Linked DNA regions of Homo sapiens. The protein of the gene in region 1 interacts with the protein of each later gene in a biochemical or structural test. Each region holds a gene or a part of one and is shown on either strand. Other genes may lie near its edges. The genes, in order: UBXN10, IFT88 and IFT56.

The links.
Region 2: the proteins of UBXN10 (region 1) and IFT88 form a complex in vitro, tested with the Homo sapiens proteins (one study listed by BioGRID).
Region 3: the proteins of UBXN10 (region 1) and IFT56 form a complex in vitro, tested with the Homo sapiens proteins (one study listed by BioGRID).

What each region holds. Positions count from the first base shown.
Region 1 is NC_000001.11:20,192,596-20,196,095, reverse strand, and holds the end of UBXN10 (UBX domain-containing protein 10), read right to left. Parts: 3' UTR 46-3,500; downstream 1-45. UniProt on the Homo sapiens protein: VCP/p97-binding protein required for ciliogenesis. Acts as a tethering factor that facilitates recruitment of VCP/p97 to the intraflagellar transport complex B (IFT-B) in cilia.
Region 2 is NC_000013.11:20,597,920-20,601,656, reverse strand, and holds part of IFT88 (intraflagellar transport protein 88 homolog), read right to left. Parts: intron 3,007-3,737; coding exon 2,904-3,006; intron 2,207-2,903; coding exon 2,092-2,206; intron 1-2,091. UniProt on the Homo sapiens protein: Positively regulates primary cilium biogenesis. Also involved in autophagy since it is required for trafficking of ATG16L and the expansion of the autophagic compartment.
Region 3 is NC_000007.14:139,147,221-139,150,957, reverse strand, and holds part of IFT56 (intraflagellar transport protein 56), read right to left. Parts: coding exon 3,668-3,737; intron 2,753-3,667; coding exon 2,581-2,752; intron 1-2,580. UniProt on the Homo sapiens protein: Component of the intraflagellar transport (IFT) complex B required for transport of proteins in the motile cilium.

The DNA.
Region 1 (3,500 bases):
CCCCACTGCACAGATCCCCTCATATAAACACGAGGTGAGCATGAAAACTATGAAACTAGGAGCTTTATTAATTAAGCCCCAGAATGATGGCTTTGTTTGCCTTCCCAAGAAGAAATGCATCCCCAGTCAGCTGCTGGACTGGAATAAATGGAGGGAAGGGTGGCAAGAAAGGGAGGGATGAAGGACAGGAGATAGAGATAAACAGTGTATTTAACTAGAACAAGGATTTCTTATTAAGTAACCTTGGTCAGCAGTCATATCATACCCCTAGAGGTAGATGATACTTTTAACTTATATCTCAACATTAAGTGAAACAGTGACCTTAGTTTTATCTCTTAATTAAAACAATGAATAGCTTTGATTTTCTCTGTACACTTTGTCCAAAAACACTCGTGCATTTCCTTGATGGGAATGTTCCTGCTGGTCAGTGTCTTTCCCCTGCCTGCCATGTGCTTTGCTGCCGTGGTGGTTGTTTGCTTGTTTGTTTTTGCAGAAACAATCCACGTTGGCGATATTGGTCAAGCTAAGTCCACCTGGGTGAATCCCAACTTGTCAAACTATCCTTTTTTTTCTCCTTAAGAAAATGGATTATATGTCCAGAATCTGGCCACCTCTCATGACATCTCTGGCTACCACCCTGGCCCGAACCACCATCACCTCTCTCTGGTCACCTTCATACCTCCAGCACTCAAGTCTTCCATCTTCCACCCCAGCCCCTCAACACGGCAGCCAGAGGGCGCCTCTGAGCAGGACAGTCTGAATGAGGCTTGCTCAGTTTTACCCGTGGGCATTTGTCACCACAGTCGTTCAGTCTCTTGGGATAGGATTTAAGTGTGTCCAAAAATACCTCCAGAGATTTGTGCTTCCGCGTCGACTGTTAGGAGGGCTGCTGCTTCCTAAACTGTTTGAACATAAAGGCACACAGATGAACGTCAGAAAGGGCTGGGAGAAGCTTCCCTAATCAGGAAAGGAAAGTGGCACGCCACCCGTGTAGACAAAAAATAAAACACCTAATTTTAGTTTTATGAGTGTTGTGTGTTGGTAACTGAGTCACCAAAAGTCTGTTCTCCTTTGATTGCTAACTCCTCCGAAGCGACCTCAGGCCTTCCCTGTTATATGGTGGGGTTTGGTTGGTTCTGGTTTCTGGATGAGAGTCAATAGGCTCGTGAACTTTTAACTTTACTGTGGGGTGTTGCCTTAATGGACTGAGAAAACAGATGTTCCTGCTTAATTCTTGGAATGACTTCTAAACTAATGCTAAAGCAAAATAATATAGCTGTCTTCTTTATTCCGTTTAAAAGGTAGAAAAGTAGATCCTCTTACCATGTAAAAGTCTCTTTTATCCGAACTTATTATGAGGATTTTATTTTTAAAACTAAGTAAAGAGAAACATCTTTGTCCCAAGAGGCAGGGTGGCTTTATTTGACATTAGAAACCCATTTAAAACGGCAGGTAAGAGCATGAACAAAAGCAAAGTTTAGTTCCTCGAATGCCTGCTTTTGTAATGCAGGTGGATCTGGCTCTAGTCTTTAAGGTTATTAATTGGAATGAATGCCCCAAGGCTGCTCTTAGTTTCTCTGTGAAGCATTTTATATGGGAGCTCTGGGGTGACTCTGGGTCCACAGTCATGTTCACAAGCCATCTCTTCCGCAGGAGTGCCCTGCCTTGAAGGCTGTTGGCTGGGTCCCCAGATATTCTCAGGGCAAGATCTGTTGTGTTATAACCACCTGCCATCTGTTGGTGCAAATTTTCTGGATTCTAGATGATGAATCACTTACTTCTCCTGCTGTTCCTTCTGCTGCCAAGACTAATTTACCTATTGGACTTTATGAGGGAATATACTAGAGTAACCTATCATGAAGGTTTGTCCTATGCAAAGTTCCTACTCCATCACTAGAAAAGGTGGGCAAGAGCTTCCTTAGCATCTCCAGAGGGTGGGATGAAGAGCCAGCAGTAACAATGTGGGATCCTCACTTTGGGGTCCTTTGCAGATAAAGCTATAGCCACTGACTTCAGTAAGGTTTGAGTTGAGAGTCCAATGGTGGGTTCATGTTTTCTTGCCAACACTTTCTTTTCAGGACACCCATGCTTGTCTCAAAGTGTGGCACTGGGTAAGCCCTCAATGGCCATCGGTTAAATGAATAACTGAGGTCTATGACCCCAAACTGGGCAAGGCTGACCCACCCAAAGCCACCAAGAGGAGTGTGCTAGGCCGGTTGAGCCCATTTAGGACAGGGGGCCTCAGCTGCAATGCAACATGTGGAGCCATCAGGAACTCTGAATTCTGATTTAGTTTGTTCTTGCCAATCCCCAAAATCAGAGTACTTGGAATGATGTTTAGGAAAAATTCAGGTGACTCTTATCCAGACAAGCTAAGTGCTGTGACAGAAGCTGAGAGCAGGAGCCCCGTCGCTTCTGCAGTGGGCATCAGAAGTGTCCGGGGAGGAGGACTTGGTTCTAACAGTGGAACAAGTGCTTTCCCAATGAGAAAACTGAAGATCAGGCTAACACACCCCTCTGTCCAGTCGTGTGTGGGAGCTGAAGCCTTAGGTTAAAATACGAGATGCACTTCTCCACTGACTCAGTTTCACACAAGTTGGTTTTTATCGTATCATCTTTTGTCCAAAAAAAAAATGTTTATTATGATGGTTTGAGTCTAGCTTTATTCACATATCCTAAAATATCCTAAAATATTTCTATGCTTATGCCTTCCACTTTTTCCCAACCCCAAAATTCTAAGCTCACCAGCAGCAGCAAACCCTAAGCACAGAAGATTCTAACTCCTTCAAGCTTGCTCCATTTCACTCAAGTTTTCTAAAGCTTTCCTGTCTGGAGAAATTACCAAGTCCCAGGTGGGTGGGATTTTATTCTTACCACAGAGTAGGTGTGATTTTATGGGAGGCTCTTCCCCCAGCCTCCTAGATCAGACATAGAGTTATGTGCTCAAGTCCTGGTGGGAAGTGAAATTCCTGTACTTTTAGGTGCTGGGCTCAAATTCTGTCTGCTGTGGTCATTAACGGGAAGAGGTGGCCAGTTGTGTGGGCCTGCCTGAGGCACCACTGGCCCCAGCTGACCTTTCCAATCAAAGGAATGGCTGACCAAACCAGGATGGTATTAAGAAATTCTATAAAACATTCAGAAATAACCTATTCTAGAATGATCTGGGCAGTGTGGGATGCAGTTAGGACCAGACCAGCCTTCTTCTGAGCAAATGGCAGTGGTGCCCATCTCCACTAAGCCTCAACGTGCGAGAAAAAACACTCCCAACCATGCAGCTTATCTGAGCACAGGATGCGCTTGTTGCTGGGGTAGCCACATGTATATGCTTCTGGAACTCCTGATTCCTGCCTTCTCTCTGTATACCCAGGAGGCGGGAGCACACACCAGAACTCAGGACTTTGTGATGACCATGCTTTGGGGGAACAACATGCACAGAATGTCTGAGTGTTCCCTACTCTGAAGGATGATTTGGCCATAAAAGGGATCAGATGAGTCATGGA
Region 2 (3,737 bases), on another chromosome or scaffold:
ATGGCATTCAAACCATTCACAAATAGTTTTCTTTTTTCGTCTCCCACTTTACTTCGTTTTTGTTTTGTTAAAGCTTTATTGATAAAAGCTTTATATAAATACCATAAAATTCACTCATTTTAAGTATATGATTCGATAATTATTGCTGTATTTATATAGTTGTGGAACTATAACCACATCCTTATTTTAATTCATTTCCATTACCCTAAAAATAAAACCTGTGCTCATTAACAGTCATTCCCCATTCTTATTCCCAGCCCTAGGTAACCATTAGTCTTTTTTTTTTTTTTTCAGACAGGGTCTCTCTCTGTTGCTCAGGCTGGAATGCAGTGGCATGATGTCTGCTCACTGGAACCTCTGCCTCCTGGGTTCAAGCAATTCTCCCACCTCAGCCTCCTGAATAGCTGGGATTATAGGCACATGCCACCACGCCGGGCTAATTTTTGTATGTTTAGTAGAGACGGGGTTTCACCATACTGGTCAGGCTGGTCTGGAACTCCTGACTTCAGGTGATTCGCCCGCCTCGGCCTCCCAAAGTGCTGGGATTACAGGCATGAGGCACCGTGCCCGGCCCATTAGTCTATTTTCTGTCTCTCTGTCTCTTCTAGGCATTGTACATAAATGGAGTCATACAATTTGTGATATTTTGTCTTGCTTCTTTCACTTGGCATAATTTTTTGAGATTCTTCCATTTTGTAGCATGTATCAGTACTTCATTCCTTTTTTTGTCAAATAGCATTTCATAGTATGAATACATACCATATTTTATTTATACATTGCCTACTTGGTAGACATTCGTCTTGTTTCTACTTTTTGGCTATTATGAATAATTGTTATGAATGTTTGTGTAAAAGCCTTTGTGACGATCTATATTTTCATTTCTCTTGGGTATATACCTAAAAGCAGAATTGCTGGTCACATGGTAAATTTGTGTTTTAACTTTTTTAGCTAACTGCCTGTTTTCCGAAGTAGCTGCACCATTTGACATCTCAGTGAATGAGGTTTCTAATTTCTCTAAATACTCACCAAAACTTATTGTTTCTTTGATTGGAGCCATTCTAATGGATGTGATCCCACCTTATTTCTAAACACTCCTCAATATAATCCCTCTATTTCAACTCAATTAGTTTATTCATAATTCTCTGATCAGATCATAAAGACTATTATTTCCCTGACTGGTCTCAGGTGTTGCCTTTTTCTCAGATGTTATCCCTTCTCTCCTCCTAAAGAGTCAATATCAAGTATGCCTCCTTCATAAAGCCTTTCTTGATCATTCTTGTTCTCAATAATGATTTCTTCCACTGAATTATTATAGCACCCATTGTCTTGATTATTGATTATGAAGCACTTAATATATGTTACTCAATACAATTTTTTTTCTAAAATGCTCAAATTCTTGGTCTCACCTGGCTTAAAAGTACTTCAAGGGCATTGTGTTCTGTAAGTTAGATAATATTTGCTAATGATAATGAGATATTATGTAAAATTCAAAAACGAATGATCTTAAAAGATGGTATTGCAAATAAATTAACTTTCACAGAGAAACTGTACTGTGCCTAGGGGAAATTATGATCAGTAAATATCTTGGAAACTTCCTATGTCCCCACAGTTATCACTAGACCATAAGAGAACTTACTGTTTCTGCTCCTGAATATTATAATAGAAAATATCCCAGCTTCCCCCTCTTCTAAGACTCAGAAGTAATCCTTTTCTCTATTTCATTCTCAAGCTACAGCAAGAACGTAAGGGGAGCTTAATTTCTAGCCTTGTATTGATATGTTCTGGAGGACTGCTATTATGATTTTGTGTCCGCATTAAGTTATATCAGGGTAGTAATGGCCTTCAGGGTTAACCCCTTTATTGGTCACTTAGTTTTATTTCATATGATCATATACAATGCTTTAACCTTTAACTTGTCATTATAAAAATGTGTACAAGTAGTAAGAAGGGAACAGATCAAAATACTACACGTATAAATCTCATGTACAAACACTTTGAAATGTTCAACCCACTGAAAACAGGTCAGAAGAGTTATCTTGTTTCAGAAAAACACTTAAATTTTACAATTATTATCTATTGTTATAAACTTACCTCATTTGCTTATTGACACTTGGAACTTGGTCTAATGCCATTCGGTAGAATTTAATGGCTTTGGAATAATTTCTTTGCTTTAAATAGATATTTCCCATATTCATTTTCAATATTCCTAATTTAAAAAAATTTAATGAATGTATAATACTCTCATTTTTCCACTCTTTGATATTTTAGATGACTTTTAATTCATATTCTCTGAAGCATTTCTCAGTTATGAAGTCTCAGATATTATCTAAAATTCTAACTTTAAAACAGTTATACTTTTCAAACTTACCTCCTGTGAAGAAATGGAACTTAAGACAGATTCCTGAAACTATGGCTAGAAAACAACTGATTTACATTATTGTGCTTTACATTATTGTGCGTTCTTCTAAGAAAACATGGAACTTAAAGACATTTAAAAGTTAGACTCAAGAATGCCACATACATTTTAATAATATTAAAGGAAACGACATTCTGATAAACATTAATACTGCTACCAAAAAATTACACAATATAAATGCTAAATATAAACTATAATCTCTTGGGGATAAATTTATATAAGGAAAAGCACATTCTATGAGGATGTCATGGCTCATTCTACTTGTGATAACAGGATACTATTAGGCAATATACCTCATACTAACTATATTTCTTCATCTGTAAGGATTTTTATATAAATAGTATGTTTAAGCAGGATACCCCTATCATAAATACTGATTTGTTTAGAGCATAGATCATTTCATTTTAAGGAAGCATAAAATGAAGAGACATAAATTAACACTACGAAAGAATTACATCTATTGGAAAAACTGATTATGTACACTTACCTGCATTGCTAAACATCTTATTTTTGACTATAACTTGATAAGTGTTAAGTGCTTCGGCATACATTTCATTAACTGAATACTGACTGGCCAAATTGAAAAGAACCTAAGGAAGAAAATATTATAGAAAAGACACATAAGACCACTTTAGGCCCCTTTCACCTATAATCTTTCTAGAGATTAAAATCCTATAACAAAGTTAGCTACTTATATCAAGATACTCAGCCAATTATGAAATTAAGTAAACAAAAGAATTATCTTGCATTACAAATGAACATTAAGAAAAGAAGACCTGTCCTCTAAATTTCACCTTAATTTTCTATGTATTCTATTTAATTTAGTAGTATTTGCCATCTATTAATCTCTGGAGGACCTACAAAGAATAAATGTGTATCATTAATGCTGCTGGTGATCAAAGAAATAAGCAAGATCGTGAACTAAATATAAATTAAACGTGGAAATATCTTAAACCTTAAAGTCTATCAGAAGAATCTGTATAGTAAGCTCTATATACTAAATTACAATTTAAGTAATTAATTTATAGTAAATTATGTTCCTAAAGGTAAAAAATGATCATCATAAATTATCCCTGAAAGATTTCATGGAATCGTAGAGTATCAGCTATAAACAGTAAGCATCTAACACTTCAAAATTTCAAACGCCCTTTTTTTCCTATGTGTTTAGCATATGAAACCTTTACCCACTGAAAATACACCCTTTTAAACAGAAGTGCAAACATTATGGAGGTGTCTTTTCAGAATTAAATAAATGTTGCTAGAAATTAGAGGCATTAGTTTTTTTTCCCCACTACCCTCATAGAACATTATTTTATATGCC
Region 3 (3,737 bases), on another chromosome or scaffold:
CTGACAAATAATAAGCAGAATGGAGACATTTTGTGTGTGTGTATTGCAGGACATTTTAGTGGTTAAGTCTATGTTGGAGTCAGACAAAAGTTTGAGATCTGCATTTGCCACTTGTTATGTTAGTTGTGTAAGCCTGAACAAGTTACTCAAAGTAGTTTAAGAATTAAGTCAATCATTACAAATTATTTCCTGTTTACTTTAGAAAAGCAGGATGCTATTGGTGTTTGTGAGACACTGAACAATGTAATACAGACCCTGTTATACAAGTTAGAAGAATGCCTGAATTTAAATAGTTTATTAAAATTATAATAATTAAACATAAACTCTATCTTATTGGTACCAAAAAAAGGTTCTTCTGGTACATTTGACATAGCCTTCTACTGCTGGAGTACATTATAAAATCAATATATAAACTACATTGACACAATTTCAAAGGAAAAAGCTTGCCTTTTGAGGTTAGAAGTACACTCTGATGTCCTAACTTGGATAATTCTAGGTGTATACTATAGATAGGATATTGAGTAACCATACTAGACTATGGAAAAGACATATACAGACAAAATGTAAACATTTAATAAATTGGACCACACACCAAAATTGGTAAATTTCCCCAAGACTGACTCTAGGTAGAAAGGCAAGAATGTATTTCATTTATTTGTTCTTACTAACGGGTGAAAACTCTAAAGATACCAAATTGCTAATCGAGTCTCTTACTAAACTGCTGATGCTGGAAACAAGCCAATTAGGCAGACTTGGGGGACTCCTTAGTTGAAATGACTATTACCCCAAGAATGCATTTTATTTAATATATAAGTATATACTATGTGCTCAAGTGTATACTAAGCAATTCAATTTGGAGGGCAAGGGTAGGATTTTTAAAGTTTGACACATGCAGAAATTTTACATGTAAATTTTGGTGGCTTCTGACATCAACTAAAGTAATAACCATGTTAAATGATCTATTTATACCCACATATTTGTATATAGATATAGTGTAGAACATATTTTCTATTCTATATCTATGTATGTATCTACCTATATCTATATATTATATATGTATATATGTGTATGTGTTAAATAAAATTATGTTATTAAAATGTTAGTAAAGTTATGTGTTATTTAAAACATGTTAAATGAAACAAAAGGAGGTAATAATCTATGGCCTCCTGTGTTTTCTCGGTTTCCTATAAAACGAGAACTACAATAGCCTCTAACCACAGGCTTGTCAGGGAAACTAAATAATGGATTTAAAGTGTTCTGCATGGTGCCTACAAGTTAGCCAATTAAGTATTTATAAAATGTCCACCATTTTTGCCTCTTGGGCTAACCTTTGTTGACGTGTACCAAGCAGAGAAAGAAGGAAGTCATTCCAGGAGTGAGAATGTTGCACACAAAGCTATGGTGGTAAGAGAGCATGGCATGTGGAACAAATTCAGTGGTTGGACTGAAGATAACAAGACTGACTAAAGGCAGGAACACTATTTAAAGGGCCAAAATAAGAGGTGAGAAACTCCTGGGTTAGAATAGTAGCCAAGGAGAAGAAGGGATAGATAAAAGAGATATCTAGGATGTATAGCTGATAGGAACTGATGATTACATGGAGATGAAGAAGAGAGTCAACAGATATGCCAGGGTTCTTTTTTTTTTTTTTTTGAGATGGAGTCTCGCTCTGTCACCCAGGCTGGAGTGCAGTGGCACCATCTCGGCTCACTGAAAGCTCTGCCTCCCGAGTTCACGCCATTCTCCTGCCTCAGCCTCCCAAGTAGCTGGGACTACAGGCGCCCGCCACCACGCCCAGCTAATTTTTTGTGTTTTTAGTAGAGATGGAGTTTCACTGTGTTAGCCAGGATGGTCTCGATCTCCTGACCTTGTGATCCGCCTGCCTCAGCCTCCCAAAGTGCTGGGATTACAGGCGTGAGCCACCGTGCCTGGCCCAGATATGCCAGGTTTCTAATGTGGTTTACTGGATGTATGTTGGTGGCATTCAATCACAGAGCCACACACATATTTTAGAGGAAGAAGCTGAAGCATTTGTTTTTTGGTTTTTGGGTTTTTTTGAGACAGAGTCTCGCTCTGTCACCTAGGCTGGAGTGCAGTGGCTCAATCTCGGCTCACTGAAACCTCCACCCGCCCCCCGAACCCCCCAGTAGCTGGGATTACAGGCATGCACCACCACACCCAGCTAATTTTTTGTATTTTTAGTAGAGATGGGGCCATGTTGGCTAGGCTGGTCTCAAACTCCTGGCCTCAAGTGATCTGCCCGCCTTGGCCTCCCAAAGTGCTGAGCCACAGCGCCCGGCCAGAAGCATTTGGTTTTAAACATAAGCATTTGGTTTTAAATGTAGGGCATCTCAGTAAAATCATCTACAATTTAATGGACATAACACAGATAATTCAGAAGTCAACATTCTTTTTAGAATACCTGATAAACATATAATTAGGTTCTTATAGAATCACAGTGGCAATGATAAAGGGATATTAATCAAGAGTTACAGATAACAGAGTTTCATGAATAACTTGGAAAGTATAAAGTAATTCAAATTGGAATGAAGTACATTAAAAACACACTTCCATCAATACCTCAGCTGCTCTGCCATTGTAAAGGCGAAAATGGTTACAGGCTTTAAGATTGAGTGCGATGGTACTATCAGGAATTTGCTGAAGGTAAACAGCCAAAACTTCTTGAGACACATCATAGTAATCCAACTTGTAGTAGCAGAGGGCCACATAAACATTAAGGGCAAGGTATTCCCTATTAGATGAAAGAATTAGGGTTAACCATTTAAGTCTACTTCACGGAAATGTCAAATTACAAAGCTCAAATGGACAAGGCAAAGAGGACAGTTCATGAACCTGCCTTATGAAGAAAGAGGGCAAGATATGATCAGTATAATTTTTTTCTTTTTGCATTGCAATATTTGGGTGTTTTGATATAAGTAGAATGAAAGATGACTAGAGAAGAAAGGGAAAGTTCACGCTGTTCACACTGAAAAACTAATATATGCAATAATTGAACATAAACACAAGCACACTCCACACAGAAGACCAACAGACAAGACACATAGGCTTGATGGCTGGAAATGGAAGCAGGTAGGAGACTAAGAAGGTAATGCAAAAGAGGATGGAAAGAAGGGGGATGAGATATTTTTGGGAAGGGAGAGAGAGGCCAAGTGTTTAAAGTTGGAATGTAAATTCTTAAGAATGATTTGTATCTAATTTTGTCAGCAAGTTACCTACGATGTAACTATAACACTAAGTTTGATACATCTAGACCATACATTTCAACTGGGGTAATATCAGTATTACCCCCAAAGGGGAAAAATTGGTTCTTAATGGGAGGATGAAAAAATCATAATCATTTTATATGTAAAGCACAGTTATACATATAGTACATATATGGATATATATTAATATACATCTATCAGTATATTAAAATTTCATGGGAGGGCAATTGGGGGAAAAAGTCTTTTAGAAGGGTGACAATGCAAAAAAAGGTAGAGAAAGCCTGATTTAGACAATATCTAATTCTTAATCTCACCAAATTATCAACTAAACAGATTTGAACACATAGTGGTACTAGATCCAGAGGACACTAGATTCTCAAACTAGTTAAAGAAGAAACTAACAAAATGAAAGGAATGGAGAGTGGGCATAAAAGGACACAGACCTGTTATCTAGCAGTATTCGCTTATATATATCTATAGCTTCTTGGTAGTGAGATCGCATATAGTGGATTG